Regions from separate parts of the Homo sapiens genome. Here region 1 is linked to region 2. Evidence: fine-mapped expression QTL. A gene starts in region 2. The other region holds a variant in brackets. All regions are shown on one strand. Distances are between the middles of the regions. Region 1 holds the start of AJUBA (ajuba LIM protein). Region 2 holds the start of REM2 (RRAD and GEM like GTPase 2).

Evidence for each region. PIP is the estimated chance that this variant, and not a neighbour inherited with it, causes the effect.
Region 1: its variant is fine-mapped to the expression of REM2 in whole blood (TOPMed, PIP 0.92).

Annotation. Positions count from the first base shown.
Region 1 is chr14:22,974,567-22,990,281 of GRCh38, reverse strand. It overlaps AJUBA (ajuba LIM protein), which reads left to right and starts at 7,731. Exons shown (of 8, transcript NM_032876.6): 1 at 7,731-9,021; 2 at 11,837-11,938; 3 at 13,570-13,637; 4 at 13,764-13,826; 5 at 15,178-15,308; 6 at 15,392-15,443. The coding sequence starts at 8,016. It overlaps C14orf93 (chromosome 14 open reading frame 93), which reads left to right. Exons shown (of 7, transcript NM_021944.4): 4 at 155-216; 5 at 437-540; 6 at 2,267-2,379; 7 at 2,648-4,388. The coding sequence ends at 3,067. AJUBA-DT (AJUBA divergent transcript) reads right to left here and starts at 5,958. Exons shown (of 3, transcript XR_007064074.1): 1 at 5,462-5,958; 2 at 76-533. LOC124903287 (a long non-coding RNA gene) reads right to left here and starts at 12,455. Exons shown (of 2, transcript XR_007064076.1): 1 at 12,181-12,455; 2 at 11,061-11,632. RefSeq lists a silencer at 3,442-3,551 and enhancers at 6,751-7,716, 7,717-8,682, 12,288-12,582, 14,884-15,384. The variant C/T (reference allele first, on the strand shown) is at 7,779.
Region 2 is chr14:22,875,693-22,891,407 of GRCh38, reverse strand. It overlaps REM2 (RRAD and GEM like GTPase 2), which reads right to left and starts at 8,186. Exons shown (of 5, transcript NM_173527.3): 1 at 8,018-8,186; 2 at 6,393-6,734; 3 at 6,069-6,142; 4 at 5,177-5,384; 5 at 3,730-4,794. The coding sequence starts at 8,120. The coding sequence ends at 4,499. LRP10 (LDL receptor related protein 10) reads right to left here. Exons shown (of 7, transcript NM_014045.5): 5 at 15,036-15,715; 6 at 14,590-14,719; 7 at 9,695-14,468. The coding sequence ends at 13,881. RefSeq lists enhancers at 2,971-3,070, 7,397-7,934, 7,935-8,473 and silencers at 4,301-4,630, 4,871-4,940.

The sequences.
Region 1 (15,715 bases), 99 kb before region 2:
CACACTAGAAATAGTAACTTGGATAGGCTCTTGGCTTAGAAAGGATTCAGGCAGAGAGCCCCTTAGGGACAATACCTTTTTACCCTAGGGACCAGAGGAGAGTTTTCATAACATCCACTCTTGGCTTGATTGTGTTTTCTTTTTTTCCTCCTAGAAACTGGTCCACAATGTGCATAACCACATCACCAATGACAAGAGATTCAATGGGTCTGAAAGGTATGGTCTCCTTGAGGAAAAAGAATTAGAAGGTACTTTGCTAAGGACAGGGAAGTAGAGGGGGATGCTCCAATACAGCAATGAGACTAAGGCTTTGATCTCACCATACCTTCTTAGGCTGTGGAGGGATTTGCCACAAAGTTGATTAGTGCTGGGTATCTCTGTTTGTCTGGCTCTTACAAAGCCGACAACTTTATTCATTCTCTTCTCTTTGTGGCAGCATCAAGTCCTCTTGGAATATTTCAGTAGTGAAGTTTCTTCTGGAAAAGCTCAAGCAAGAGCTGGTGACCAGTCCCCACAATTACACTGATAAGGAGCTAAAAGGTGAGAAAAACTGGTTTAACTCCTATGCCATCCTTTCTCCCCCTCTCCTCCCACTCCTCTTTCTTGGTCAGAGGAGAAGAGGAATAATAGAGATGATTAGGTGGTTTTGAAAATAGTGGATTTGAAACATTTTTTGGCTATTCTCACCTTCAATATATTCATAGAATTATCTCAAATTGCCTGTTTATTTCCCTCTCAGTCTGAAACGAAAATGAGAGAAGGAAAGGGCTAGAACAGCATCATGCATTCTGTTTATGCAGGTCTTGCACCTAAGGTGTTACGAGGAGGAGGAATCTAAGGTGTTATGAGGAGGTGTTATGTTCAGAAGCCAGGCCTGCCCCTTGGTCCCTAAATATTATTTCCCAGGCTTTCTCTTTCCTTGCTCTCTTTTGTTATTTGTAGCTAACCCTGAAGTATTATGAAAGCTTCTGCTGAAAAAGTACTTGTAGAGCCAGGTAACGTGGCTCATCCCTGTAATCCTAGCACTTTGGGAAGCCAGGGCAGGAGGATTATTTCAGTCCAGGAGTTCGAGACTAGCATGGGCAACATGGCGAAACCCAATCTTTACCAAAAACAAACAAAAATAACAAAAATTAACTGGGTGGGGTGGCATGCATGACGTAGTCCCAGCTACTTGGGAGGCTGAGGTGGGAGGATTGCTTGAGCCTGCGAGGTGGAGGTTGCATTGAGCCAAGATCGTGTCACTGAACTCCACTGTGGGCAAACCTTGTTTCAACGAAAAATAAAAAAATACTTGTAATCTTCCATCAGAGTGGCAATAGGGGTAGATTGTTGTTGTTTTTAAATTTTTTTTTAAATAGAGACTGAGTCTCACTATGTTGCCCAGGCTGGTCTCAAACTCCTGGGCTCAAGCAATCCTCCTGCCTCAGCAGGAGGCCTCCCAGAATGTTGGGATTACAGGTGTGAGCCACCACGCCCAAGAAGGGGTAGGTTTTATTTGGTGGAGGGAGCGGGGAGACACAGAAGCGATTGGAGTTGTCTTTTTCCAGTGGGAGATATTTGGGAGGAGTTAGTGTTGGAGATGGAGGTGGGCAAAGAAAGCTAAACCAATTAGCCGGCCATGGTGATGTGCACCTGTAGTCCCAGCTGCTCAGGAGGCTGAGGCTGGACGATCACTTAAGCCCAGGAGTTGGAGGCTGCAGTGAGCATGCATGACCATGCCACTGCCCTCAAGCCTGGGTGACAGAGCGAGACCCTGTCTCATAACAAAATCATAATAAAATAAATAAATAAAAAGAATCCTAACCAAAGAGGAGTGAAGATGCTAATGCCTATGCCAAGAAAGCCCAGCATCTAGGCCAGGCACGGCTGCTCACGCCTGTAATCCCAGCTCTTTGGGAGGCCAAGGCAGGTGGATCACCTGAGGTCAGTAGTTTGAGACCAGCCTGACCAACATGGAGAAACCCCATCTCTACTAAAAAGAGCTGGATGTGGTGGCACATGCCTGTAATCCCAGCTACTCGGGAGGCTGAGGCAGGAGAATCGCTTGAACCCAGGAGGCGGAGGTTGTGGTAAGCCGAGATTGTGCCATTGCACTCCAGCCTGGGCAACAAGAGTGAAACTACATCTCAAAAAAAAAAAAAAAAGCCCTCATCTAAGTAGTGATCGCCAACCTCCCATTCAATAGTGTTAGGGCAGAAAAACGGGCTGGGGACCACTACTCAGAGGACCCTCCTTCTTGCTCCCTTCCTTCCCTCCCCGCCAGGAGCCTGTGTGGCCTACTTCCTTACTAAGAGGCGTGAGTACCGCAACTCCCTGAACCCCTTTAAAGGCCTGAAGGAAAAAGAGGAGAAGAAACTTCGAAGTCGCCGATATCGGGTAGGTTTCTAGGCCTTTCTTTCAAGATACTAAACTCTAAACCCTTTCCTAAGTGGGAAGGGCCAGAGGACATGGCATATGAGAATAGGGTTGAGAGCCAGGAATGTAGGAAGATAGAGAAGAACAGTGAGCCAATGCTAAGATCTGACTTGGGGACTGGGTTCACTTAGGCACAGATTTTACACAGCCTTCCCCACCAAACCTTTTCCCCAAATCTAATCCATAGAATGTTTACCTTCCTAATCTATCTCCTGGGTTCCTGCCTTAGCTTTTTGCCAACCGATCCAGTATCATGAGGCATTTTGGACCTGAGGACCAACGTCTGTGGAATGATGTGACAGAGGAACTGATGTCAGATGAAGAGGACAGTCTTAACGAGCCAGGTGTGTGGGTGGCCCGCCCTCCCCGTTTCCGGGCCCAGCGCCTCACAGAGCTCTGCTACCACCTGGATGCTAACTCTAAGCATGGCACCAAAGCCAACCGTGTGTATGGGCCTCCCTCAGACAGACTGCCTTCTGCTGAAGCCCAGCTCCTTCCACCAGAACTTTACAATCCTAATTTCCAAGAAGAGGAAGATGAGGGAGGGGATGAGAATGCACCTGGCTCCCCATCTTTTGACCAACCCCACAAAACCTGCTGTCCTGACTTGAACTCATTCATTGAAATCAAGGTGGAAAAGGATGAATAAAATCTACAGCCAAGAATAACTCTGGCTTCCGCCATGCCCCATGTCTCAGAAATAGGTGGCCATGGGGCTTCACAAAATAATGAGATGCTCTGTGCAGTCTGAGAAAGCAAATTTGCCTCTTTTCTTAACACAGTCTCTACTGGGGAAGCAGAACACTGGTGGGATAAAAACTTATCTAGAAGGGGAGAAACTCCCTCCACTGTGAACAGTAAGCCAGAATATGCTTATTCCTCAGCATAAACAGTATCTCGGAGAAGCCTGGGATGAGAAAATGAGGAGGATGGGTCCAAGAAACATGAGGCCTTCTTGACATATGCCCTGTCTCTGAGTTGTTTCTGCCCCTGCCCAGTTCCACCCAAAGCTCTGAGGAAGCAGCCCAGGTTGTACCTTTTGCTTCCCTGTGACTACTTGTCTTGCTCTGCAGTGGAAACCGAACATGACCAGTGCAGGTTAATACCGCCACCTGGTGGGCAGTTTCAGTCATGAGCTTGAGTCTTCTGACCAAGGGAACACAAGTTCTATCACTATTGGGGAATTGGGTTCCTGATATAATAGCTATTGTTTATTGAATTACATGAGGAAAATTTTACTATTCCTATCTTACAGATGAGGAAATTAAGGCTTAAAGAGTTCCCGTGTCTCACCGGCAGCCTCTCTCTCACTATGTGACCAAGCAAAATACACAGCTTTGTAGCTGTTTCTTGGTCCTGTCAGCCAAGCTGTATTTTGAGGAAGGGGTGTGCATTTTGGATGGATTGAAAAGCAAAAATGGCTTTACATTTATTCAGTCTTATAACAAACATTGATCGCTTTACTAGGTGTCAGGTACTGTGCTATGGATACATTGTTGATAAGGTTGGATGCTGTTCAGAGATTTTTTTAGTTTAGTCAGGAAGCCAGGCAGTGGAGTAGGCAATGAAATGAACTGTGATAAGGGTGACCATGGTGGAGTGTAGTGCACTATGGCAATATACAGCAGGGGTAGCTAACCTACTCTTGCAGTCTGGAAAGGCTTCTTCTGAGAGGGTGTAATGTCTAAACTGGGGAAGAGTTAACCAGAAGGAAAGGGGAGGCTAAGAGAGTGTTCCAAACAGGGAACTGCAGGTACAAAAGTCCAGGGGCAAGAGAGAGTACAGACAAGGTCCAGTTCTACTGCAGACTTTTGGGGAAGGGATAATGCTAGAGGAGAGGCTGGAGAGTGAGACAGACCTCATAATACAGAGTACAGACTTCAACCCAAGGGCAGTGAGAAATCATTGAAAGTTTGTTTTAGCAGGGAAATAAAACGACAGGTTTTGCCTACAGGCAGTCCCCAACTCAACGATGGTTCGACTTAGGATTTTTCAACTTTACGATGGTGCGAAATGATTCAGTATGCTCCTCACCTTATGATGCAGTTATATCAGATAAACCCATTTTAAGCTGAAAATATGGTGAAGTTGAAGAAGCACTTCTGCCTTACGATATTTTCAATTTATAATGGATGGGTTTATTCAGACATAACTCCATTGTAAGTCGTAAAGCTTCTGTACTGAAAAAAATCACTTGACCTCAGGGTATAAGATGGATTGCAGGGAGCAAGCCTTGGCCAGGAGACTTTTGCATTGGTTTCGGAGAGGAAAGACGGTGACTTGACATATATAGTGGTGATGAGGGGAGGACAGATTTGGAAGATGTTTAGGAAGCAGAATTAATAGAACTTGGTGATTGATAGGACTTGGTTGGATTTGAGGTTAAGGGAGAAGGAGGACATAGGGTTGACGCTCAGATTTCTAGTTTAAGCAGCTAACAGGATTGTGCCATTTACTCAGAGAATGTTAGAGGAGCCAGTTTCATGAGGCAGAGAAGATGAGATCAGTTTAGGATATTGGGTGCTTCTGAGACAGCCATTGGAGATGCTAGTAGTTAGTTGAGTTTTTAATTCCAAGAAAGACTGGGCTGGAAATATGGATTAGGGAGTCACCTGCATATACAGATTATAATTAAAGTCTTGGGAACGAAGAGGGCCTTTGGAGATCCCAGCTCCAGTTTAGACTGTGGAGAGGCCACCTGAGGTCATGAGCACTATTGGAGCATGCCCTATTAGCATATGCGTCTTCTACTTCTTCCCCTTCACTCATCTCTGCTTCCAGTTATCCCTTGAAAACACAGGCTGTTCATCCCAGTTGTGCCCATTGCTACCACCAACTCTTGCATGGGCCTCCTTTAATGGCCTCCCAACATTTCATAAGATTTCCTCTCGCATCCTCACCCCAAAGGATCAAAGCTTCCAAATATTAGTAGTTGTGTGGATATTTTGGATGTAATTGGAAGGAAGAATCAAAGTTCTCCTTCCTCATCTGGACACAGGAAAGGAGGGAACACATTATGGTTAATTCTGAAGATGTTGCTCACAGCAGGTTCTAGATGCAATCCGATAGCTCCCCTCTGTTCCTAGTGCTTTCAGTCCTCCCTGCTTCCACTCTGGTAGGAAACTCTCCTCAGGATCAGAGAAAAGCCGTGGCCTTGACCAGGGAAACAGAGGCTGATTCTCAGGGGAGATGAGGTCAGGGAGACAATGCAACTAGGACGAAGAAGCCAAATAGTTTGGCACAAATTAATTTCCCAAAAGATATTAACCTCGTTTCTTTCCACATTCCCTAAGGCTACACTAAGATTATAAAAGGTGTTCAAAATGTTGAGATGAAAATAATATGCATGACTTGTTTGCATATAATTTTCATACTCATTTACTATCTAAATACAAAGGAGTCATTTTCCTTCTCCATTCTACTTCCTCCACCCCTTGCCCCTGATGTTTTAGTCTGGGCAAAAGTAGTTGGCTGGTTTTTAAAAAATTTTTTTGAGACGGAATCTCCCTCTATCGCCCAGGCCTGAGTGCAATGGCACAATCTCGGCTCTCTGCAACCTCCGCCTCCTGGGTTCACGCGATTCTTCTGCCTCAGCCTCCCAAGTAGCTGGGACTACAGGTGCACGCCACCACACCGGCTAATTTTTGTATTCTTAGTAGAGACGGGGTTTCACCATACTGGCCAGGCTGGTTGCAAACTCCTGACCTCGTGATCCCGCCGCCTCTGCCTTCCAAAGTGCTGGGATTACAGGCGTGAGCCACCGCTCCCGGCCGTTGGCTGGTATTTAATTAGGTATGTTTAGCTTCATCTAGGGTTTCTTTAAAAAAAATTATTATTTATTTTTGAGAATTTTTTTGAGACGGAGTCTTGCTCTGTCGCCCAGGCTGGAGTGCAGTGGCCGTGATATTGGCTCACTGCAACCTCTGTCTCCCGGGTTCAAGCGATTCTCCCGCCTCAGCCTCTCGAGTGGCTGGGACTATAGGCGTGCGCCACCACGCCTGGCTAATTTTTGTATTTTTAGTAGAGATAGGGCTTCACCATGTTGGCCAGGCTGGTCTGAACTCTTGACTTCAAGTGATCCGCCCGCCTCAGCCTCCCAAAGTGGTGGGATTACAGGCGTGAGCCACCGCGCCCGGCTGCTTCAGCCAGGGTTTCTTTTCCTTATTCTTGATCCTTTTAAAATAGTCAATATCAGCCTCTTTTCCATCCTGATCATTTTCATTTGCAATTTCCTCTACACGGCATTTCTTTTCTTCCTCTTAATACTTACTCTGTATCACCAGTCTTCTGTGGACCAAAACCAAAGGGAGAAGGTGTTCGCTAGCCCTAAAACCAGGCCTTCGATCTCCACAGTCACCTGAAATGAGAAAAATCTCATTTCCCAACACCAGGGGGTGTCTATCCCTCTAACTGTCCTACCCTTAAGGTAGAGATTAGTCCCAAACCTTTTCCTCACTCCTTTTCACTGCTTCTACATACACACTATATCTCTTTCCCTCCCTCTCAAAGTAGAGATTAGTCCCATTTTCCTGACTCCTTTTCACTGCTTTTACAAATCACAAAACTTTTGGGTCCAGAAGGTGGTGCCTTTTTATTGCAGTTTATCTGTTTGTCTCTCATTCTCTCTGGACAAGCTTGTCCTTTCCTTTGTCTGCGCACCCTTCGGTCTCTGCATCGTCCACACTCCTCTTTGCTCCTCAGCTCTCCCTTTCTTTCGCTACCTCTTCCCTCTTCCACCTCTCTCTGTGGGCTTCGTCGCCTTTCAGGGCTATCTTTACGTACACGTCTCTGAACCTCTTTATGCATTTGTCTTCTTTCTCTCTGTCTTCCTCTTTATGGCTCTCTCCTTGTCTCACCATTTCTGTACCAGTCTCTCTCCATCTCTCCCACAGTCCCCACGCTGGGAACAAAGTCACGGTGCTAGCGCAGAACATGCCTCCTGTCGTCCGGTCCCGGGACGCGACACATTCCACCATGCCCCTCCGCGCATTCCAACTGCAGACAAAGAGTCCCCGTCCCCTACCCCCACACTCTTTCCTATTCCAATTCTTCAGTGTTGTAGGGGCAGCTGCCCCAACTGCCCCTGCCCGCCTCTCACGTCCAGTCCGCGGGTCTCCACATCCAGGGCAGTTAGCGCCTTCCGCTGCACGCACACCAGCTATCCCTGCGCGGACACCCCCGGCGCTCTCGCACACACCGCGCTCCGCCCCCCTAGGAAAGTAGATCCGGCCAGGCAGACAAAAGTTTGGGAGAGAAGTTCGGTCTGTGGCTAGCGTGAGAGCTAGGGGGGCGGGGGCCGGGGAGAGTGGGGCAGTCGGGCGAGTCGACGCGTGAACAGATAGACCTGCGGACTGGACAGC[C/T]GCGGCCAGAGACCCTGCTAGCCCCGCTCAGCCCCAGATGCGCGGGGGGACGCAGCCCCTCCCGCTGGGGGATGCTGTGGGATTCCTGGCGCAGGGCATCCAGGCCGCCCGCTAAGCCCCTGTGCCTCCCCTGTGCCCCTGGGGAACCAGAGTCCGGCTGCAGGGAAAGAGAACCGGCCGCCGAGACGCCGCAGGGTGCCAGGCGGGGAGGGGGCGAGAGGCCCCAGGCCCGAGGGCATGGAGCGGTTAGGAGAGAAAGCCAGTCGCCTGCTGGAGAAGTTCGGCCGCAGAAAGGGTGAATCTAGCCGGTCTGGGTCTGACGGGACCCCCGGGCCGGGCAAGGGGCGCCTAAGTGGGTTGGGGGGACCTAGGAAGTCAGGGCCCCGAGGAGCTACTGGGGGACCTGGGGATGAGCCGTTGGAGCCGGCCCGGGAGCAAGGTTCCCTGGACGCTGAGCGAAATCAGCGCGGCTCCTTTGAGGCGCCGCGCTACGAAGGCTCTTTTCCCGCGGGGCCGCCGCCCACCCGGGCCTTGCCTCTACCTCAGTCGTTGCCCCCCGATTTTCGGCTGGAGCCCACGGCCCCGGCCCTCAGCCCCCGCTCTAGCTTCGCCAGTAGCTCGGCCAGCGACGCGAGCAAGCCGTCCAGCCCCCGGGGCAGCCTGCTGCTGGACGGGGCGGGGGCTGGCGGAGCTGGAGGTAGCCGGCCCTGCAGCAATCGCACCAGCGGCATCAGCATGGGCTACGACCAGCGCCACGGGAGCCCCTTGCCAGCGGGGCCGTGCCTGTTTGGCCCACCCCTGGCCGGAGCACCGGCAGGCTATTCTCCCGGAGGGGTCCCGTCCGCCTACCCGGAGCTCCACGCCGCCCTGGACCGATTGTACGCTCAGCGGCCCGCGGGGTTCGGCTGCCAGGAAAGCCGCCACTCGTATCCCCCGGCCCTGGGCAGCCCTGGAGCTCTAGCCGGGGCCGGAGTGGGAGCGGCGGGGCCCTTGGAGAGACGGGGGGCGCAACCCGGACGACACTCTGTGACCGGCTACGGGGACTGCGCCGTGGGCGCCCGGTACCAGGACGAGCTAACAGCTTTGCTTCGCCTGACGGTGGGCACCGGTGGGCGAGAAGCCGGAGCCCGCGGAGAACCCTCGGGGATTGAGCCGTCGGGTCTGGAGGAGCCACCAGGTCCTTTCGTTCCGGAGGCCGCCCGGGCCCGGATGCGGGAGCCAGAGGCCAGGGAGGACTACTTCGGTGAGTGAGAGAAGTGGTTAGGGACGGGAAGGGACCCGTCACGGTATTCGGTTCTCCACTGCCCCGACGGCCCAAAGTGCCGGTGCCCCGGGGTCCGAGGTGAAGACGCGGGACTAGGAAAGAAGCAAGAGGGATGGATGGGGGCGGCCCCAGAGCACTGTCCCCTTCCTGCTAGTTTTCAGATGAACCAGGGCTCCTTATTTCTGCTAAATTCAACCCCCCTGGTATCTCGTGAGTCCGTTTCTCAAGCATTTGAACCTCGGTTTTTTGCGGCAGGAGGCCTCGTAGGGAAGGGACCAAGTGGGGCAGTGAAGGCGCATCCCCCCCAACTTGCTCCCCCCTTTCACGGCGGTGCCCCTGGAGGTTTGTGCGCGCCGCGCCCCCACCCGGGCCCAGGCTCCGCCCGCAGGAATTCGGAGAATGCGCGGGTGGGGGGGCGGGGCAGGCTGGCCGCGTGCGTGCCGACTCCTGCCCGGGCGCTCCAGGTGCCCGCGGGCGGGGCGGCTGCCGCCGCGCGGCGGAGGGGTGGGGTTCGGGGATCGGGGGACGCTCCCTAGCATACGCGGAGTAGTGGCGGCTGTCGGGGAAATGGAGCCTGGGAGACAGGATGGAGCGCCCTGGGACCCAACTGCTGTCCCTCCCCAGTCCTGTTGGCTAGGTGCGTGCGTGGGCATTTAATCAGAGACCCAGTAGTACCAGCTTCTATTTTCCCCATCCTCCGGAAGTCAGGGTAAAAGTCATGACTACTGGGACACCATTACCTCTGGATGGATAACGACCCTGTGTTATTGCCAGAAATAACTTGGCCTTGAATTCTGCTTATAACCTCTCAGAATTCAGGCCAGAAGTAGCGCCTTACTTCCTGACACTGTTAAGGAAACCTGGTCGCTGTCTCCCTCCCCTACTCTGTTCAGGAAGTATTGATTGATTATATGTCTCAGCTATGAGGAACATTAGGGTCTTGAAAGATCTTTTAGTCAAAATTCACAGGCACTGCTACACACATAAAAAACTTCGAATCTGATTGTGATTGGAAAGAAGTGGCAGGCTTACCGCCTAAGGGCTGTGGGCCTCTTTCACTTTTCTAAGCATCTCTTCTTACCACTCATGCCCCACTCCTGGACCCCATGCTGTAGAACTCTATGGCTAGAAAAGTGAATAGGAAGAGGAACGCGGCCAGGGAGGGATGGTTGGGTAGGAGGTTCAGAGGTAGCAGGGCGGCAGGCTATAAGGGCATAACTCAACCCCCAGCCTCCACCCCCATTCTTTTCCCCACCTCCAAATCCACCGAGAGGAAAGCCCAGAGGAGATGATGCCAAACCGCTTTGATCAAGGAAGACTGAATGACAGGGCCCATTTAGCAGTTTCATTTTGAGGCCCAGGAGAGGTGGCTAGTAAAGAAGTCTTTTTGGCTGAACCATCAGAGCCAAAAGGAAGAAAGGAACTCAGAGAAACTGCAATAAAATGGCAGGAAGAACATAGGTATAGATATGCTGGGTTAGAGGAGGTGAGGCCAACGTGCCTGAGCAGTTTCGTTTGCTTTTCCCATAACGTCCAAGGTTTCCTAAAGAATGGCTCCGACAGGACCCCCTGGCATGGCAATCTTGGGGCAGATCTTCACTTCCATGAGGAAGCCACATTTTGAATTCAGAGATGGGGGCCCCTTCTCCTTGGGAGTCAGGTTGCCTCCTTTGACAGAACCCCTACATACCCCTTGTGCCGCTAGCCCCAGCTTGACTGTACCCTCCTCCTGCCCCTAGTAGGGGCCCTCTTCCTTGGCTTCAGCCTTGCCCAGCTGCCAGAGGGTGGGAGCAGGACAGGCCTGGGCCCATCAGTTGCTGCAGCTGCTGCACAGGCTCCCAAGCCCCTGGGCAAAGACTGGGATGGGCCCCAACAGGCAGGGAGTGTGGCAGCGTGCCGAGGGGGAGAGGTGGGGCAGGCCCGTTGGGATCTGCTCCCCAAAGACAGGCCCTAGCCCTCACTCATGGGCCTGGAATTGGGGAGTGGAGGGAGGGAAGAACACACCCAGGAAAGGCAAGTCCCAGAGCCAGGTGTATATATCTTAGTGGGGGATTTTGGGGAATAGCAAGCAGTTCAGTTCTGTATTCTTCCCATGATAGAAGGTGACTAGGAGGCATCAGGGGCTCTGCTACTCTCCCTGCTTTCCTGTTCAACCCTGGTTCCTGGAACACACCCTGCATTCTCAGCAGCCACCTCCCCACAGGAATCATGCTCACATGGTCCCCTCTGCACGGAGCCCTCTGCCAAGCCAGATCCTTTTCTCCATCCTTGGAAGTCTGCAGTGGAGAGAAATCATTCTATAACTGAACAGCTCGTTTGACTGATGGGAAACTGAAGTCCCAGAGACGATTTCTGGGCCTAGCCTGCTTTCTCTAGAAAGTATTTTCAAGTCTGCTGCTGAGCACCTGTGGACTGGCATCTTTGACCGTTCATCCTACACACTGCAACAGAGATCATACCTTGCCTGTGTAGTCTTTTCTCCCCAACAGAAACTAAGCATCTGAATGCCAGGGACCATATCTTCGACTTTCTCCAGGTTTCCTTAGGTAGTGGTGCTGTGTTAAGCACAAAACAGATGCTCAGAAAATATCTGTTGAGTAATTAAATAAACAAGAATGGATCTGCTCAGCCAAGATCTTGCTGCATCTCATTACTCGTTATCTTCTCTACTCAGAAGGGAGCCCATCAAAGGGAGACTGTGACCCCTGGCACATCAGGAAAGGGCAGTCAGGAAAGCTTGGGAATCCCTGGTTTTGACCTGGGGGAGTAGAGTGTGACACTTTTCTCTTCTCAGGCACCTGTATCAAGTGCAACAAAGGCATCTATGGGCAGAGCAATGCCTGCCAGGCCCTGGACAGCCTCTACCACACCCAGTGCTTTGTTTGCTGCTCTTGTGGTGAGTGTAGCCCCAATACTCAAGCACTCCCCTCCCCTGCCCACATACACACTTACAAGTGCTATGGGGAACAGGAGGAGAGCTTGTGCCTCTTCATTTGCTCACAGAGCAGCTGTTGGATCCCCACCAAGTGTCTGGAGGTCCGCAGCTGCTCTGCCTCTCTTGCTTCCCTGTCTGTCCTCTACTTGGCTCTCCCTCCGCCTGGTGGGTCCCCTTTCTGGAGTCCCTCCTTCCTTCCTCACCTCTGTTTCTCCCTCTCGTGCTTCCCTGCTTGCCCATCCTGGACTTGCCTGGCCCTCCAGCTTCTTGGTGGGGCTTGGTCTTGGGCAGCCAAGTTGCCTGGGGCGACAGTGAAAGACTGGAATGTGGGGAGGGTGGGGGCAGGCTGGGGGAGTGGGGAGCTGTTTGGGGCGGAGAGGGGGGTTTTCTCTTGGCTGGTCAGAGTTCAGCCACCTCACTGGAGTGCAGGCCACCGGGCCATGCCAAGCTGATGACATCACGCTCCAGGAATGCCTGCCACTGTTAGCTCAGGAGGCCCACTTGGAAAGGGGGGATGCTCCCAGCGGCCTTAACTGCCCCCCTCCCCTCCCTCATTACCCCCTCCTTACTGCTTACCCATTCTGATTCCTTTGCTAAACCTTTAATCTCCTATCTCTGCCTGTCTGACTTCAGCACTCAGCTTTTCTCACTCCCCCAGTTTCTGCCTGGTTCTCTTTAGGCTCATCTGTCTGTCTATCCTTCTGTTTACAGGGCCTCTTCTGGCTATATCTCTTTCCCTATCTTTCCTCCCCTGTGTCTCATGAGCTTCTAAGTCAGCTTTCCTAACCCACTGGACAGAGTTGGAAGTAGGGATTTTGAGGGGAAGAAGGCAAAGGTGGGAAAATTGCTCATGCTCCACCTGTTCTCACTCCTTCCCTATCCCTGATAATGTAGACACCTGGGAGCAGTTCCTGGGGGTTGGTCACATGGGGAATTGTCCTGCCTTGTCTGCTGGAAGAAGATCCTGGGTTGTCTCTTACCCCAGTGACTCTGGGTCCCTCTAAGCTTAGGGAAGCAGCCTTATACAAACAGGAGAGGGGACCTGCTTTGCTTCCAAACAAAGCACTTTGTCCTTCTGCAGTAACTCCAGTCCTGACCTCCATGGAGTCTGTCCCTGGAAGGAGACAGGCATTTGAGAGCAGGATAGATATGCTCAGGCAAAGAGGCTTCTAGGTTGAAGGGTCCCAGAGGGAAAGGCCTGTTAACAATGTGGTTCTCTCTATGCAAATCATATAGCACCTTATTAAGAGCTCACGTATTCCAGCACGTAGTTGGCTTTACTCTCCCAGGTGGCTTCCTATGCACTGGAGAGGAAGGCAGTTTGTTTAGGGGAGGGGCCCTAGAAAACTGTTAAGGAGGCAGGAGCTGGAGGAGCAGCAAGCAGAGGAGAGGGGAAGTTGGCTGGAATGAAGCCAAAGCAAATTGGAATTGCATCAGATGGAATTTTTGTGCGGGGAAGGACAGACAGCAGTTAGGAGGAAAAGCACAAAGTCCAGGTTTAAATATATTATGCAGCAGCGGGGAGCAGTGACCCCAGAAGTCTTGCACCTGGGCTGTGGGATAGGTTCCAGCCCCTTCTCTATTGTTTCTAGGGCGAACTTTGCGTTGCAAGGCTTTCTACAGTGTCAATGGCTCTGTGTACTGTGAGGAAGATTATCTGGTGAGTAAGGGTCACCTGGACCTGGAATTGGTTTCCATACTGACCCCCTTCTTGGTGGCCCATTGGAGTACCACCCATCATTCTCAGTTTGATAACAGCCTCCGTTCGTCTTGTCTTTTACTTTAGTTTTCAGGGTTTCAGGAGGCAGCTGAGAAATGCTGTGTCTGTGGTCACTTGATTTTGGAGAAGGTAAGTAAAGTGCTTTCAGCTGAGAAGTCTCACTGTGAGGCTGAGGAGCGGGATCAGGGACTAAATGGATATTGAGAGAAGGTTGGGGAAAGAAGCCTGTCACCAGATGAATCACTTTCATCCCATTCCTCCCCAGAGCAACTGTTTACAGTGGCTTCCCTCTGCCTATGGGATCAAGTCTGGGCTCAAAAGCCTGTCAACCCAGGCTTCTATGACCTAGCCCCTCCCTAACTCTGCAGGCACAGCCAGGCCTTCCAGCCTGAGCTAGGAGTGTGGGGTCCTGAGTCTTTTTTTTTTTTTTTTTTTTGAGACAGAGTCTCGCTCTGACAAAGTGGAATGATCTCGGCTCACTGCAACCTCCGCCTCCCAGGTTCAAGTGATTCTAGTGCCTCAGCCTCCCAAGTAGCTAGGACTACAGGCATGCGCCACCATGCCTGGCTAATTTTTGTATGTTTAGTAGATAAAAGGTTTTGCCATGTTGGCCAGGCTGGTCTCGAATTCCTGGCCTCAAGTGATCCTCCTGCCTCAGCCTCCCAAAGTGCTAGATTATAGGCGTGAGCCACCATGCCCAGCCTGGGGTCCTGAGTCGTCTTCTTTTTTTTTTTTTTGAGATGGAGTCTCACTCTGTTGCCCAGGCTGGAGTCCAGTGGTGCGATCTCGGCTTACTGCAAGCTCCGCCTCCTGGTTCACGCCATTCTCCTGCCTAGCTGGGACTACAGGCGCCCGCCACATGCCCGGCTAATTTTTTGGTGTGTTTTTAGTAGAGACGGGGTTTCACTGTGTTAGCCAGTATGGTCTCGATCTCCTGACCTTGTGATCCGCCCACCTCGGCCTCCCAAAGTGCTGGGATTACAGGCGTAAGCCGCCGCGCCCGGCCAGTCCTGAGTCTTAATCCCCTTTCTGCTACTGGTTAGAATCACTTGGGACTCAGTTTTCTTTTCTGTAAAAACAAAAGATAGGATTAAATCAGTGATTCTCAATCATGGTAGCCTAGCAGATCAGCTGGGAAGAACTAAAAAACAAAACAAAACAAAAAACAGTGTTTGGATCCCATCACCACAGATTGTGATAATAGGCCTGGAGGAGGGCCAAAGCATTGATGTTTTTTAAAAGCTGCCTAGGTGATCCTGATATGCAGCCAGAGTGAAACACTGCTGGCCTGAATGCTCTCTCAGGCACTTTTCAGGGTCTCCGCCTCCATTTTACGACTTCTTCACCGACATTACATAGCATTGTTCTGGGAGTATAGCAGCGGGTTGGATGAGGTTAATGGGAGTAATAAGGAGCATAATGGGCAGCTGGAGAGCTGGGACTGGAGGGAGACTGATTCTCTTGCTACCCCATGAGCCAGATCCTACAAGCAATGGGGAAGTCCTATCATCCAGGCTGTTTCCGATGCATTGTTTGCAACAAGTGCCTGGATGGCATCCCCTTCACAGTGGACTTCTCCAACCAAGTATACTGTGTCACCGACTACCACAAGTGAGTCTGCCCCTTGGGATGCAGTGTGGAACTGGGTCCAGGGATTCCCCAGCCTCAGCTCATCTCTTCCCTCTCTCTTTCAGAAATTATGCTCCTAAGTGTGCAGCCTGTGGCCAACCCATCCTCCCCTCTGAGGTCAGTATGTCTGGGTTCTCCTTCAGGGCAGCCAGTGCCACTGCCTTTGGGGAGGGGATAGGGACATGCTGCCTGGCCTCCTGCCAGAAGTGGTAGTGCCAAGGAATGTACTCTGTGAAGATTCCCGTGTGACTCTGCCTCTTGGGGTCACCACCCTGACCCTAATATCCGGGCCTGGACATGTCTGAAAGCCTAACTGGGCCCAGGCTCCATCTCTTCTATCCCAGTCCAGAGGAGGAGACTTTCTTTGAGGTCGAGGTCACCAGACTGCA
Region 2 (15,715 bases):
CCAGGAGGCGGAGGTTACAGTGAGATCGTGCCATTGCACTCCAGCCTGGGCAACAAGAGTGAAACTCCGTCTCAAAAAAGAAAAGAAAAGAAAAGAAAAAGGGCATACAATGAAAAGTCAGCTTCCCATCCTGGTCTTCTACTCACCCAGTTCCCCTTTCCAGAAGCAGCCAGTACCATCTTTTTTTTTTTTTTTTTTTTTTTTGACAGAATCTCACTCTGTTGCCCAGGCTGGAGTACAGTGGCACGATCTCGGCTCACTGCAACCTCCACCTCCTGGGTTCAAACAATTCTCCTGCCTCAGCCTCCCAAGTAGCTGGGATTACAGGCATGTGCCACCATGCCCAGCTAATTTTTGTATTTTTAGTAGAGATGGGGTTTCGTCATGTTGGCCAGGCTGGTCTCGAACTCCTGACCTCAGGTGATCTACCCGCCTCGGCCTCTCAAAGTGCTGGGATTACAGGCATGAGCCATCCTGTGCCTGGCCTGTAACAAACCCTTTTGTGAATCTGATGAAATTCATGAACCCTATTCTCAGACACAGGTATGACTACACAAATACATCAGATTGTATGTACCATTTCACAAGACGCAGACTCCATCAGTAGTCTGGGGTAAGGATCCCAGCCTGTACTGCACCTTCTCCCTTAGTATAATTGTGGATCCCCTTGCAAAATGAAAATACAGGGCTCCTTGTTCGAAGAATTTTAAGAACATAACAGCAGAACATTAAACTAAGCTTAGGGCCCTATGTGACTGCACAGGTCACCTTTTCTCCTTGCTCTTCTACTACTATCTTTATGGTAATTATTCTCAAATCTGTTTCTCTTGTCCCAACTTGTTCTGAATTTCAGATTCAGATTCAACTCTAGAGAGCTGCTGAAACTCTATATAGATGTTCTTCTAGCATCTCAAATTCAGTGTCTCCAAAATGGAGCTCCTTACTCTCACTACCTCCTCTGCCCCTTTACTCCAAGTTCTGCACCATCCTCTCACCACCTACAACTTTTTCCTCTCTTTATACTCATCCACTAAGTTGCCAAGTCCCATTGATTCTGATGCTCAAACCCATGCCTCCTTCCTTTCCCACTGCCACCCCCCTCAGGATGGCCTTTCATTATCCTCTGTATGTATCACTATTAACTGGTCCCTAAACTCAGCTCCTCAGTACTTGCCTCTGCAGCTCCAATCCATACACACCTCTCCCAGCCTCCTCTTCCCAAAAGACCATCCTAATCATGACTTCCACATTCAGATACCTGCAGTGACTCTCCCTGCCTACAGAGTTGGGCACAAACTCTTTTTCCTGGCATTTAAGGTCCTTTACAGTGGGACTCCAAACCTTCTTTTCCATGCTCATCTCTTACCCCTCCTCTTCATGTCCCTGAGGTTTCAACCCAACTGTACAGCCATCTGGTCCCTTAATGGGCCCAGTGTGTTTTCCTGTGTTTTAAAATTTGAGCTGCCTCTGTTCATGGTCTTCAGAATTTAGAACTTGCTTACTCCACTACAGCCATGTAATTTCTCTGGACCTTTCACCACAGCCACTGCACATGGCCCTGCCCATTGTGTCCCCGCATCTTGACTGCTGTCCCCTCTTTCTCTTCCTCCCATCCTTATTGGAAAGGGAGCCTCAGATGCAAAGCTGGATAAAATCATCATTAAGTATCAAGCAGAGCTGGGCGCGGTGGCTCACGCCTATAATCCCAGCACTTTGGAAGGCTGAGGTGGGTGGATCACCTGAAGTCAGCAGTTCAAGACCAGTCTGGTCAACATGGTGAAACTCCATCTCTACTAAAAATACAAAAAATTAGCTGGGCGTGGTGGTGGGTGCCTGTAATCCCAGCTACTCGGGAGGCTGAGGCAGAAGAATCACTTGAACCCGGGGGGTGGAGGTTGCAGTGAGTGGAGATCGCACCATTGCACTCCAGCCTGCGTGACAAGAGCAAGACTCCATCTCAAAAAAAAAAAAAAAGTATCAAGCAGACATGAAATCCCAACTCTACTGCTTACCGGGTAACCTCAGGCAAGTTACTTACACTCTGTTTCTTCTACTGTTAAACAGGTAGTAACACCTTATATAGGTTTTTTTTTTTTGCTTGTTTGTTTTTTGAGATGGAGTCTCACTCTGTCGCCCAGGCTGGAGTGCAGTGGCACGTTCTCAGCTCACTGCAACCTCTGCCTTCTGGGTTCAAGCTATTTTCCTGCCTCAGCCTCCCTAGTAGCTGGGATTACAGGCGCCTGCCACCACGCCCAGCTAATTTTTGCACTTTTTAGTAGAGATGGGGTTTCACCATATTGGCCAGCTTGGTCTCGAACTCCTGACCTTGTGATCCACCCACCTTGGCCTCCCAAAGTGCTGGGATTACAGGTGTGAGCCATGGCGCCCGGCCCTTTTTTTTTTTTTTTTAAAGAGACAAGTTCTCGTTCTATCACCCAGGCTGGAAGGCAGTGATTGCAGCTCACTTCAGCCTTGAACTCCTGGGCTCAAGTAATCCTCCCACTTCCTGAGTAGCTAGGACTACAGGTGCACTGCTTTTTTTTTTTTTTTTTTTTTTTTTTTTTTTGACAGGGTCTTGCTCTGTTGCCCGTGCTGCAGTGCAGTGGTACAATCACAGCTCACTGCAGCCTTAACTTCCTGGCTCAAGGGTTCCTCCCAGCTCAGCCTCTCAAGTAGCTGGGACTATCTGAATGACACCACACCCAGCTAATTTTTTGTAAAGACAGGGTTTTGCCATGTTGCCCAGGCTGGTTTCAAACTTCTGAACTGAAATGATCCTCCTGCCTCAGCCTCCCAAAGTGCTGGGATTACAGGTGTGAGCCACATGCCTGGCCAATTTTTATATTTTTTTTTGTAGAAACTGGCTCTCACTATGTTTCCCAGGCTGGACCTTATATAGTCTTTAAGGAATTAACAGATAAAGTGTATAAAGTCCTAAGGATAGGGCCATTATTCATCTTATTATAAGTACCCATGCTGGGATGGTCCCCTTGGCTCCTCCCCAGCTACAAGGACTCAGGAAGCATTGCAACCCTCTTTCCATCAAGTTCTGGGAGGCTGTGTGGGGTAGAATGGAGGCTGGCCCTCAGGTGCTCAGGTAGCTGTATTGTATGTCTAGGGGTGGTGAGGGGAGCTGCTGCCTCTGCTCCCTTTGTTCAAACTCATGGCTCAGGCAGCAGCAGGCGTGGGCGTCCCCAGGGGAGGCAGTGACAGTTTCAGTACTCACACGGGCTTTGCAGGTGACAGCTGGGGCTGTGGAGCCCTGCCAGAGGAGGCACAGACAGACCCCCATCACGCCACAGCTGATGGGCTTCCCTGGTGGATATGGGCCCCACTTTGAACCAGCCCAAGTCAAAGCTGAGTACCGCTGGGAGCTAAGTGTAGCCTCTAGCCTGTTCCCTGCAGGATAGAGTGGGGGTAAGGAGATGAGGCTCAGAATCTAGAGATTTGGTCCCACTGTGTCACTAATTTACAAATGACTTCTAGGAGGTCCCTGTTCCTCTCCAAGCCTGTTTTCTCATCGGCAAACGCAAGAAGTGGACCTGATTATCTGTAAGGGCCTGTGGCCCTATGACATGGACTACCCCAGGCCAAGTCAGTTCCAGAGCCTCCTTAGAGAGTTAGGTTCCTTGCTCCTCTGGGCCTGAGTTTTCTGGTGGGTAACAGCAGTTTCCATCAACACCCATTCCTTCCCCAAAGACTCCAAGAACAGAGTCAAAAGTGAACAGAGGCAGTACAAAAATTATTTATTGAAAAGGGAAAGGGTGGCCCCTTGCTGGTGCCCCCCTGGCCCTGGCCAAAAGGGGTTGCCACTGCTCATTATCTGAATGCAGAAAGTCTGTCCACCCCTTACCTTTAATAACCTTAAAGGGGAAGTGCCGTGGTGGACTGGTAAGTCAAGAGAATCCATCTCAGGAACAGCACTTCCAGGCCCTTGCCTTTAAGAACTCCTTAAAGGCAAAGTGGACACATGCCGCACCAGATGAGAGCCAGAACGTTTTCGGGAAGGTCCCTGGAGGAAGTGTTTTCGTGTCTTTACCTTTAAGACTCTCTTAAAGGTGAGGCATGTTCACGCAGCGTACAAAGGAGGCAAACTCCGTCAAGGAGTCTACGAAGCACTTTTCCAGATCTTGCTTTTAGAATCTCTTTACAGATGAGGTGGCCAAGCGCGAATTAATAAAAAACAAAATACCTTGCAGAATTATTTTTCTTCCCGACCCAGCAGAACCCGCCCCGCTCACCGGCCGCCTTCAGGTCTGCGTCCTCGCCTTCTAGGCGCCCTGAGGCCCAAAGCTCCAGAGAACGCGTTGGGGCGGGTGTGGAGGTGCCGCCGAGCGGCCCCGGGCCGCCCCCGGCGGTCACACCGGGGCATCCTGGGAGTTTTTGGTTTCCTAGACGGCCTCCACCAAGGAAGCCGGACGGGGGCGGGGCGGGGCGAGGGGGGGCGAGCGGAGGGCGCGGTGACCATGGCGACCGCAGTGGCCATGGCGACCGCGGCTCAGAGCACCGAGAGGTCGTGACACGACCTGGAGCGCTGCTTGAAGAACTTGGCGTTGCGCGGCACCAGGTTGGCGAGGAACCTCTTGGCTTTCTTGGTGAGGCTCTCGCGGCGTGCAGGTGGCGCAGGGCCCTCGGGGCTGCCCGGATCGGGCCTCTGGCCTCCGGCGTGGTTTCGGCCCCGCCGCAGCCGGATCTGGCGCACCGCGCCCTCGAAGAGCTCCCTCGTGTTGTGGTGCAGTGCGGCCGACGTCTCGATGTGCTTGCAGCTCAGCGTCCCGGCCAGGTGGCGGCCCTCTGCAGGAAGGCACCGGCTCAGGCGCCCGCTGGGCTGTACGGGACCCGGGGCGAGGGTGGGTCTAGGGAGGGCCTGGGCGTGCGGTGGCAAGGGATTGGTACTAGTGAATCTTGCAACCGAGAGAACATGGCTGAGCTCATATGGTGGGTCTGTGGAGGTGCGAAGGAGAGGGAGAAGGAGGCCTAGGAGAGAGGTGAGGGGAAGTGACAAGAAGGGATTCTCAGGATCCTCGAGTGGGGCATTGGGAGTGTCCCCCTAGCCTGGGTCTGATTGCAAGTGAGTGCGTCCGCGATGGTAAAAAGGCCTTAGGGAGAAGAGGTGACTTGGAAGGGAGAGCATTCCCCTGAGATCGCAAGTATGGAATCTGTTCAGGATACACACCCTCCAGTGATACCTCCCGGGAGCGGGCCAAGTCGCTCTTGTTTCCAACGAGGATAACGGGTAGGTCGTGGTGCGGCCTCCCAGCCCGGAGCCGAAGTAGGGTCTCTGGAACTTTGGAGAAACTCCGTCGGTCGGTGACTGAGAAGACGATGAGAAAGGCGTCCCCGGTCTGAAGGCAGTGGTCCCGCAGCCACCCTCCTGCATCCCCCTGCAGACAGGCAGAGGAACGTTAGGGCTGGAGGCATAGGAGATCCTGTCCAGCACCTACACCTCAAAGAGGAGGAACAGGGCTGTGAGGCAGAAAGAAGCCACCTGCTTAGGACAGCAGAGCTAGTTAATGGCAGAATCTCCCTACCCAGAGTGTTTGTGGAGGCGGAAGAAATTAGTAATATGAGGATCCTAGACTAGGGTAGCCATCCTAATTTCTTAAGCTCTTGATTCAAAAATGAATATTATTCACACGTCTGTAATTTGGCCTCTTATTTCTACATAGTAACCTTTATGTCCAAATATTCAGAAGTCCTCACTTTTTTCCCCCTTCCCTGATATTCCAGATCCCTGAGCTCTTGTCTTGTCACATCAGATTCCTTCAGGCTGAAAAATTTATGGATGGAGTCAATTTCAGGGTGTCCAGCCTAGCTTGGAGCTGCAGGGTTTGTCAAATTCCCATCCTAAGTTTGCTCTGAGTCAGAAGATCCTGGAAAGACTGTGGGTCTTAACAGCCACAGGCTGTAGTGTGGGTCTTTGCTTTCTGAGGTGATATGAATGAAAGGTCAGGTTCCAGTACATGTGGAAACCAGGACCAGCAGTCCCACCAGCCTTCAGCCAGACTTTGCCCTTCCCCAGTTCTCCCAGCTTCATCACCTGCCTGCAGCCACATCTTAGTTCTCACCTGTTCCCAGATGTCATAAACGACTAGAGTCACTTCCTCCTTATCCACCATGATGCGTCTCTCATAGGTATCCTCTGCTGGGAAATAGGGAGAGGGTATAAAGTCCATTAGGAGGTTTCCCAACATTTGTGAGACCTGGTAACCAGGGACACCTCAGATCTCAGCACCAGGGAACCCTGCCCCTCTTCAGGGAGGCTGCCACAGAAAGCATTGGAAAAGCTTCTGTTAAGCTCTGTCCTTCAGGGGCTGCTCAGGTCACGAGCACTTCCTTCCCTGACCAGGGCCCCAGAGCCCCCTCAACCCCTGGAGGGCTTCCCCAAATACCTGGGTTCTCCGGTTCGTGAGCACTGTCTCCCTGGAGACCACCAAAAGTGCCTGCTAGGGTGCTCTTGCCCACGCCGCTCTCCCCCACTAGCATGACCTTGAAGATGCCATCCTTTTGAGCAGGGGCTGCCTCCCCTGAGCCCAAGGAGTCAGACGAGCCAGAGGATGAGGCCTGAGGTGGCCAGTCAAGTTCATCTACAGCCTGGGCCCGCCGGAGCTGGTGCTTGTAGGGGACAGGCATACTGCCTCTTCGTCTGGGGGCCCCAGGGGCAGAGGGTAACCCGCTCCGGTCCAACTCTGCCAACAGTTTCTCTGACTTCTTTAGTAGCGTGGCATCTGCTTCTAAAATAAAATGGGAGGGCAAAGAAAAGGAAGCTATGAGTGGGATATGCTCAACCATATGCAGAAGGCTCAATCCAGGCTGTTCCAGTATCAGAGGCCCAGCTACACCCACTTGATGACCATTACCCAGAAGGAACTGAGAATGTCTGGCCTGACCTCTTACACTAAAGTCTCCAGAAGCCTGAACTGGAGTTGACATGATAGCTTCTCCAATGCGGTCCCAACCCCAACCTATTCAAAACGTGCCCCATGCAGGGAAGGGACCTGAATGCAGGCTCACATACCCACTCACACTTTACACTGATACACAGGCAAACCCCCAGACTAGGCCTCTGGCCCTGTACGGTGGAGTTGGGGGAGGTTTGGGGAAGCTGCCTCTTTTTCCATCAAGAGGCCCTTCCTCCTCCTGTTTCCAGCACTGGTAATCCCCAAACTGAGGAGCAGAGAGGATGACAAGCTGAAACTGCTGCCCAGTGTCTGGGGAGTAGGTATAGCAGAGTAAAAAACTTTGTAGTGAGCTTCTTCCTAGGAAAGGGCCTTTGCTTTTTGAGATGATGTGCGTGCTGGGTCTCTGTGGGTTCTCTGTGTGTGTGTGTGAGAGAGAGAGAGGGGCTGCTGCTTCCCGTGGCCCTGTAGGTGAGCATCCCTCATTGCGTGGTTGGATGTGAGAATCCTGCATCCCTGTCTGTCCCTGTGAGTGGGAGAGAATATTGTGTTCATAGAGCAGTAGAAGTAGAGAGAGAGAGATAGTGTGTGTGTGTGTGTGTGTGTGTGAGCGAAAGGGAGAGTGACAATGCGTGGGTCAGGGTAACTGGAGGAGGAACAACAGACACAACAAAGGGGGCTAGAGGGAGGCTGGAAATAGCCCAGGATCAATACTTGGCCAGCAGCCAGGGCCTCCAGCAGCCAGAAGAACCCTTACAATAGTTCCCCGGGGTAGCCCCTGCCTGTGATTCCCAGGCTTGTGGGCTGCCCCTTTCCTCTCCCCTTCCTTCTTGCCTGTTCCAGCCTCGGGAATGAGGCTGAGCTAGGGGCCATGTACCAGTTTCTCAAGCAAAGCCCTGGGAGTGCTGGGGGAGGGGGCATTTAGGCAGCTCTTCCCCTCCACCCTAGCCCAGCCCCAATCCCTTGTGTGAGCAGGGGTCTTCTCCACTTTCTCAATTGCTCTTCTCCTCTTGCTGACTGAGCTCAAGCTCCCTCAACCCCTAGTTCTGACCTCCCCACCAAAGCTTCAGCTCCCACCCCCATGGTTTCAGCCGGAACCTGCCCAGGTTAGCCCTCACCTGGTGTGGGCGTCCCTGGAGGGGAGGCCCGGCGGCTGCCAGAGGGGCAGAGTGCTGTGGTTTCTGTGTCCATGTCCATGTCTGTGTCCAGGTCCGTGTGCATCAGTGTGCGTGTGCGTGTGCGTGTGCGTGTGCAGCCCAGCAGCTCGCAGCACCCTCTCCCTCACTCAGCAGCACTGTCAGCTTTTCCCTTTAAATACCACCCCCCCCCCCGACACACACACATGCCCTCCCCCCTAGACACCTGGGGAAATTGTCCCACCCCCTGATGAGGTCACACATGCTAATGAGCAGTGATGTCAGCGGGATTCCCTCCTTTCTGCCCCCCCTCCCTTTTCTTTGTGTCGCTTCTCTCTGGGAGCACACACACTGCAGAGCTTGGTTGAGTTATGACAGAACAGTCAAGGGGCAGAACAGACAAGGGTTGCAGGGGGTGTCAGTGGGTAAGGGAGCTCAGGGTGACAGAAGGCAGGGACCTGGGGAGGTGAAGGTCTTTCTCCAGCAGCCAGGACTACGCATCATTTGTCTTTGTATTTCCAGACCCCTAGCCCAGTGTCTAGCCCAGAGAGCGTGCTCAGTGGCTGCACAGGGGCAAGAGGCAGAAAGATTAAAAGCTGGTCTGAAAGACAAAGAGATGCAGGCCAAAAGAGGTGTGGGGACTGAGGGTCAGCCACCCTGCCACCTTTTCCTTCTCCACCCTGCCTCTTCTGGGCTAAGAGCCACGAAAGTACTCATTTCCCAGCCCCTAGGCAGATGCGGGCTCTGAGGAAGGAAATTCAGCTGCTTCATTTGGGCAGCTTCATTTTGCCACTAAGTTCAGGTAGGGGCAAACCACTGTGGAGACTCTTCCACCTTCTCTCCCTGCCAGGCCCACCAAGCTAACGATAATCAGAGCAGGAAAAAAGGGTGAGACAAAGCTAGCTATCTCAAACACGAGGTTCCCAATCTTAAGTGGGTGGGGAAGGGGGAGTGCCAGCTACCCCCCAACTCCCCTACCCACTGTTAATGTTTTTTTGGTGCAGCTGCCAGGCCTTCTGGGCTATGCAAGGCAGGTACGCAATGGGTGATGTCTGCCTGTTTGTAGGAAGCCCAGATAGCACATCTCTTTTACCGTTCTTTTTCTGCCCAGTTCCCTTTCCCTTCAGGTTCCTTCTCCTGCCCCTTTCCTTCTTGTCCTCCTTCCTGACACCCTTAAGCTCCCAGACACACGTTCCGATTTCCTTTCCTTGCCCCGTTTTTGCCAGATGCTGTGCTAAGTACTTTCTTGCATTATCTCCTTTCATCTTCTTGAGCCCAAGGCCCACAGTGGTAGGTGGGTGCCCCGTCCCTAAAGCAATCTTGCAGCTGGAAAATGGGAACACCAGGAATCCCACCCACATCTTTCCAGTGCCAAGGATTTTTCATTTCTACATTGTGCAGCTTTCCTTCTCTTAAATATTCCAACTGTCTCCTATTATTGGGAACAGTCTATATTGCTATCCTCAGTGGACTCTTCCAATGGAAGAGGCAAAGAATAATCTTGGGAACAATGTGCAGTGACACTTCACTTATTTGGAGGTCAGCTATAGGGCAACAGTGCAGGGTTTGAGGGAGCAGAAAGGACCCCTCAGCTGCTAAAATACTCCTGTGCTTTACTCACTGGGTAGATTCTCCAGTCCTCAGTCATGGCCTACTTACTTTTACTTTTTACTTACTTTTATTCACAATTTTAACGTGTCCATGTGTGTTCCTGTACTAGTAGATTAGAAACACATTTAGAGTAGCAAGTGACCCCTTGTAGTCAGGGAGGCAACACCACACACACACAAAATAACATTTAAAGCACTCATATGCATTTTATAAGTGGTCTAAGGTCATTTAGCATAAAAGCAAATAGCTCCCCGTGCCCCTACTGTTACAACTTCAGAAGACACTGCTGGAGAAAAGCCATTGGTTTCTGTGAATGATCCTCAGTTATGCAGAAAATTATTATATTGCAGATATGCTGAAGACAAGTGTAACATTTTAGAATGACTTCCTTCCAAAATGAGTATTTTTATTTTTTTCAGAGGGAGGGTCTCACCCTATTGCTCGGGCTGGACTGCAGTGGTGCGATCATGGCTCACTGTAACCTCAACCTCCCGGGTTGTGCACTTGCCCGTATCCAGGCTCCCTCAGGAATGGGAGGTCCCATGGAATGGTGGGACAAGGGTGAGATTTGGAACGAAGCCATGCCGGCTCTAAATCCACCACTTGGTAGAGACTGGGCCAGTCTTCTGATTTCCCTAAAGCTCCTCCTGAGCTTGCAAAATGGGGTTTATGATGCCCATGGCCCAGCCCTGTTGTGTGGGTTCACTTCAGGTGATGAAGAATCTGGCATCATCGGGCACTCACTTTTTTTTTTGAGATGGAGTCTTGTCTCGCTCTGTTGCCAGGCTGGAGTGCAGTGGCGCGATCTCAGCTCACTGCAACCTTTGCCTCCCAGGTTCAAGTGATTCTCCTGCTTCAGCCTCCCGAGTAGATGGGACTACAGGCACGCACCACCATGCCCAGCTTATTTTTGTATTTTTAGTAGAGACACGGTGTCACCATGTTGGCCAGGATGGTCTTGATCTCTTGACCTCGTGATCCGCCTGCCTCGGCCTCCCAAAGTGCTGGGATTACAGGTGTGAGCCACTGCGCCCCATCCAGGCACTCACTCTCTAACCACCTAGGTGCTTCTGCAGCCTTGGGCTGTGTGGCTGGGGGGTCCTTCTCCCCTCCTAGTGAGGTCTGGAGCTTGGTTCAGGCCCATGATTTTTTTTTTAAATCTATTTATTTATTTTGAGACCAGGTTGTGAGACTGGCTAATTTTTAGTATTTTTGGTAGAGACAGGGTTTCATCATGTTGCCCAGGCTGTTCTTGAACTCTTGGCCTCAAGCGATCCGCCTGCCTTGGCCCCTCCAAAGTGCTGGGATTACAGGTGTGAGCTACTGCGCCTGGCAGAATTTTGTTTCTTAAGGACTGAGTTCTGGTATCTTCTTTTCTTTTTTTTTGGAGAAGGAGTCTCGCTCTGTCACCCAGGCTAGAGTGCAGTGGCGCGATCTCCACTCACTGCAACCTCCGCCTCCCGGGTTCAAGCAATTCTCCTGCCTCAGCCTCTCGAGTAGCTGGGACTACAGGTGCATGCCGCCACACCTGGCTACTTTTTTGTATTTTAGTAGAGACAGGGTTTCACCGTGTTGCTCAGGCTAGTCTCGAACTCCTGAGCTCAGGCAGTCTGCCTGCCTTGGCCTCCCAAAGTGCTAGGATTACAGGCGAAAGCCACCGTGGCCCAGCCCTGGTATCTTCTTTTATCTTAGGCTCTAGACTCTGATTCACAGCCTGAACCCTATCTCATGCTGAAAACACCTCCCACCTTCCCACCAAGAGCCTTAACGTGGGTCCCACACCGCTAAGACCAAGCACCTTGGATATTGGTATCTATCTTGATGGAATTTTAGGTTGCCTCATTTCTTTTTTTCTTGGGCCCTGGTGGAAATAAACCTGAGTGACTGCTCCCCAGTGCCATCACTTGGGCAGGACACTCTGTCTTAGTTTCTCCATGCTGCCTGTACAAGGTCAGTCCCCTATCCCGGCTAGCTTGGGGCTTCACTGTGGCTGACAAGAGTATTATTACTACCTACACCTCGTACAGCACACAACCAGAACCTAGAGAAACTTCTTTCAGGCCCACTGATCTATAAGCACAAGCCTCCTTAGTGAACTCTGCCCTAAAGTCCTCCTTCCAGCATTTGGAAGCATTCCACCATGAGGAGCAGGTTTACCTTAAGTCTTTGTCCACTTTCAGTTTGCAATACCACTAGGAGAGAAAAGGTCTGGATGAAGGGATGAAGATATCAGGCTGCAGGTATTTGAGGTGGCTATGGGGGAAGAGAAGAGCAAAGGAGAGGGCAAAAGACCAGGCTATGGAGAGGCAGGGGAGGGAAAATCACTGCTTCACTATTTCCATTGGGCCTGACGCTGAGTGGATCCTGGATTGTTTGCGTTTGGGAAGGAGGGCCCAAAGGGAGAACAGTAAGCAAGAACCAGGTTCTCCAGAGCCCTCTCCCCAGTCTCTGGAGAGGGTCTGCAGTGAAAGGAGCTCGGGTCTTCCCTGAGCCAAGGTGCCAGGGTCCCAGAACTGCACATGGGCCCACACCCCTCTCTGCTACTTCCTCAGGCTCTTGCTCACTAGAAGAGAGGAAAATTGTGCAATTAGTGCTGGGTTTGAGGAGGCTGACAGGGTGTAATCAACAGGGCCTCTCCACCAGGTGTGGGGCTAGGCTGGGTGATGGGCTCTGCCAGGCGTGGGGCTAGGCTGGGTGACAGGCTCTGCCAGGTGTGGGGCTAGACAAGGAGAGCCTGAGGGGAGCCTCTTTCCCCAGGGACTGGGTCCGTTAGGGAATTCCTCAGTTTTGTTCCTGAGGCATCACTCCCACCCCCACAGCTTCCTTCTACATCTTCTGCCTCGATCTTCCTTCCAAACTCTGGGGCAGCTTCTGTCACTTTGCTCACTAGGGGCTGGGTTCCAACACTGCTTGCGAATCATTCCCTCCATCACCCACCCCAGCGCTGCAGCTCTGGCCGCTGCTTGTGCTCTCAGGCCCAGGGTCTTTCCTATAACCCTTGCCCTCTTGTCTCCTCCGTTTGCTTGTTCTGGGGACACTCCCCCTGTCTAGAATTCACAGCTCTATTCCAACTGCTGACAGCATTCTTTTGGTTCCAGTTTGGGCCCTCTTCCAGGAAGACCTCTTGGATTTGGCCATGGTGATGCCAGCACCACACACCCTGAATGTTTGTGAATTCTCCCTCCACTCACCTTTGCCTGCCTTGAGGTATCCTGGCTGAGAATTCATCTGTCTTGCATAGGACAGACTGCTAAATGCCTGGTGGGTGTGGAGGGTGGAGGGTAGGAGTCATGACTCCTGTGTCCCACCAGGGACAGCTGCTCCTATGATCTGGGCTCAGGGTATGCTCCAAAAATGAGAACCTTCCTGACCGCAGGGCCCAGCTGGCTCCCCTGACTTCTATGCTGGCAGTGAGGAAAGAGGCCCTGGAGTCAGTCATTGCAGAGCTGGGCCCCAGGCATTTGAGTGAAAATGGAGAGGATTGATCCTTAGGGTTCCTAGAATTTTCTTACCTTCTGTGTGGTATAAAAATCAAGAGTGCAGTGGTTGGGAGATGAACAGGAAGAGGGCAGGAGGTAGAGGGCCAAGCAAAGGGCTCCACAGGGAGGAGTGGGATGAGGTGAGCATAGACTGAGATGGGCAGAGGCGGGGCTCAGGCTCGCAGCTAATTTGCAAAATTTTGAGATGTATGATTCCTTTATTTTTGACCTCAACTTACTGAGCAATGCCGTAGCTATGGAATAGAAGCATTTGTTGCACTCTTTTTGTGAGCCAGGCCCTGTAGGAGGGATTGTGGATGGCAAAACCTCAGGTTCTGCCCAAATCCTCCCCTTGGGGGCTGGAGGGTCTCTAGTTAATTGGCATTCCGGTGCTTAAGGCCACTTTTGGGTAGAGGTTTGGCAAGGATGGAGTGTCCAGACCTATGATCCTCTAAGAACTTTACTTTTTAAAAACAGCCACCCAAATGGTGGTGGCGTGGGGAGCAGGTGGTGGTGAAGGGACTGGGGTGTCTGGCCATGGCCACGTACAGAGGAGACTCTGTGAGCCCTCTCCCTGCCTGAGGGACACTTAACTTTATAGCAGCTACATAGGGTCAACGGGAGGCCCACCAAGTCCCTGAAATCCAGGGACAGGGAAGGAAGTGGTGGAGGGGAGGCTGACCCACCTCTAAAAGGTTGTGCCACTATGAGTAGAGCCCCCAGGGGAGAGGCCTCAGTAGAGCCCCCAGGTCCCCTCAGGTAAGCAGTGGCTCATCCTCTGCCTCAGCTACCCACACCCCCGGCTCAGCCAGTGGCACCAGTAGCACATCGTCCTCATCTTCCAGGGCCAGGACTGCTGTGTGGGGTCCAGGGGGGCTCCGGGTTGGTCCTGGGGGCCCCAGGCTGGGCAACAGGCGGCCTCGCAGGGCCTGCACCACTCCAGACAATAGTGATGGCTCTAGGGGCAGTGAGGGCAGTGGCCCTGGGGCTTCAGGGACAGTAGTGGGGGCTGGAGACGTGCTAGCAGATGGGAGGGGAGCCTTGATGGGCAGTGGGGGTGCCTGCTCCCCATCTTGCCCACCCACTGCCCCGCCCTCACGGGCTGGACCTGTGCCACCATCTAGGGCCTCAAGGGGAGCAGCAGAAGGTGTGACCTGGGATCTGGCCTCAGAGGCCCGAGCCGGGGTGTTGGTTCGAGGGAGCAAGCCCCAGCGGCGGAGACGGCGTACCAGGCGTCGCATCAAGCGGCCCCGCTGACGACGGCGGGCACCTGGGCCACCTCCTGGAGTCATATCCTGGCGTAAGATCTGTAGCAGAGAACGCAGGTTGCCCAGCACTGAGTTCTGCAAGGAAATGAGGAGGCCTCAGAGTCAGAGGGCCAAAGGCTGAATGAAGGAGGGTACAGGGGCGGGGCCACAGCAGAACTGGGACCAGGAGGTGCTAGGGTTGTGGGGAGTGACTTACATCATTAGGATTCTCTGTAGGAAAGTCTTCTACAGGTGGGATGGCACCCTGGGCAATGAGCTGCCCGTAGGAAGGGGGTGCCTGCTGCTGCACAATCTCAGCCTCCATCCGGGAGAGGGGGGCAAAGATGCTAGAAGGAATGAGGACTGCTCAGTCACTGGTAGTTCTCGGCCAGAGTAGACCACCTCAGCCTGGACAGTCCTCCCACTTCCACACCCGGGCCAGGCCAGCTGGAGCTGTGCCATGGCTTTCCCAAAGGTCATCTGAGGTCCCTCCTCCCTTGAAACTGCTTTCAGGATCTGGACCTGTCCCTTACAGGACACAACTGACAAGCTGATCATGGGAGCCTCTCCCCAAGGTGGGCACTTTCGTGGTCTCCTGTAGCTGCACAGCCCAGCCTCACCCTCAGGGTCTACTCTTCTACTGCCAGCCCCACTCCCACTGACCTGTACTCCTGGGTGCGAATGGCATAGAGCTTGCAGGTGCAGCCCAGGGCGATGACCAGGAGCAGGCCGCACACTAGGCTGCCAATGACTGCAGCTGTAATGACCTTGCGGGGCAGAACATAGGAGCAGTCCCACTCATCACTGCCGTCCGCACAGTCTGGCTGCCCATCGCACACCCACGTCTCATACACGCACTTCTCGTCCCGGCATCGGAAATTGCCAGGCTGGCAATGCCGACAGCGTCTCTCATCTGCTCCATCAGCACAGAAAGTCTGGTAGTTGCAGCGGTCAGCAGGCAGGTAGCAGGCTGTGGCACCAGAGGTGCCAGCAGCCCCACAGGGGAAGTGTCCAGGTGGGCAGCCTGGGCAGTCCTCCTCATCTGTGCCGTCAGCACAGTCCCATGAGCCGTCACAGCGCTGTGCCTCACTGTAGCAGCGCTCACCTAGGCCTTCGCCAGCTCCCAGGCCAGAGCCTAAGCCACAGGGTCTGTCCCAAGGCAAGCAATAGCCCCGCACATGGTAGGTGGCATTGAAGCCACGACCATTGCTCCAAGCAACTGTGTGGTAGGACACAACAGCCTGGCCAGACAGTGTCTCCACAGTGACAGCCTTGCCATTGCTGAAGTGGGTGAGACTACGCAGTAGTCGGGAGCTCTCAGGGGGCCCAGGGCCGTCATACAC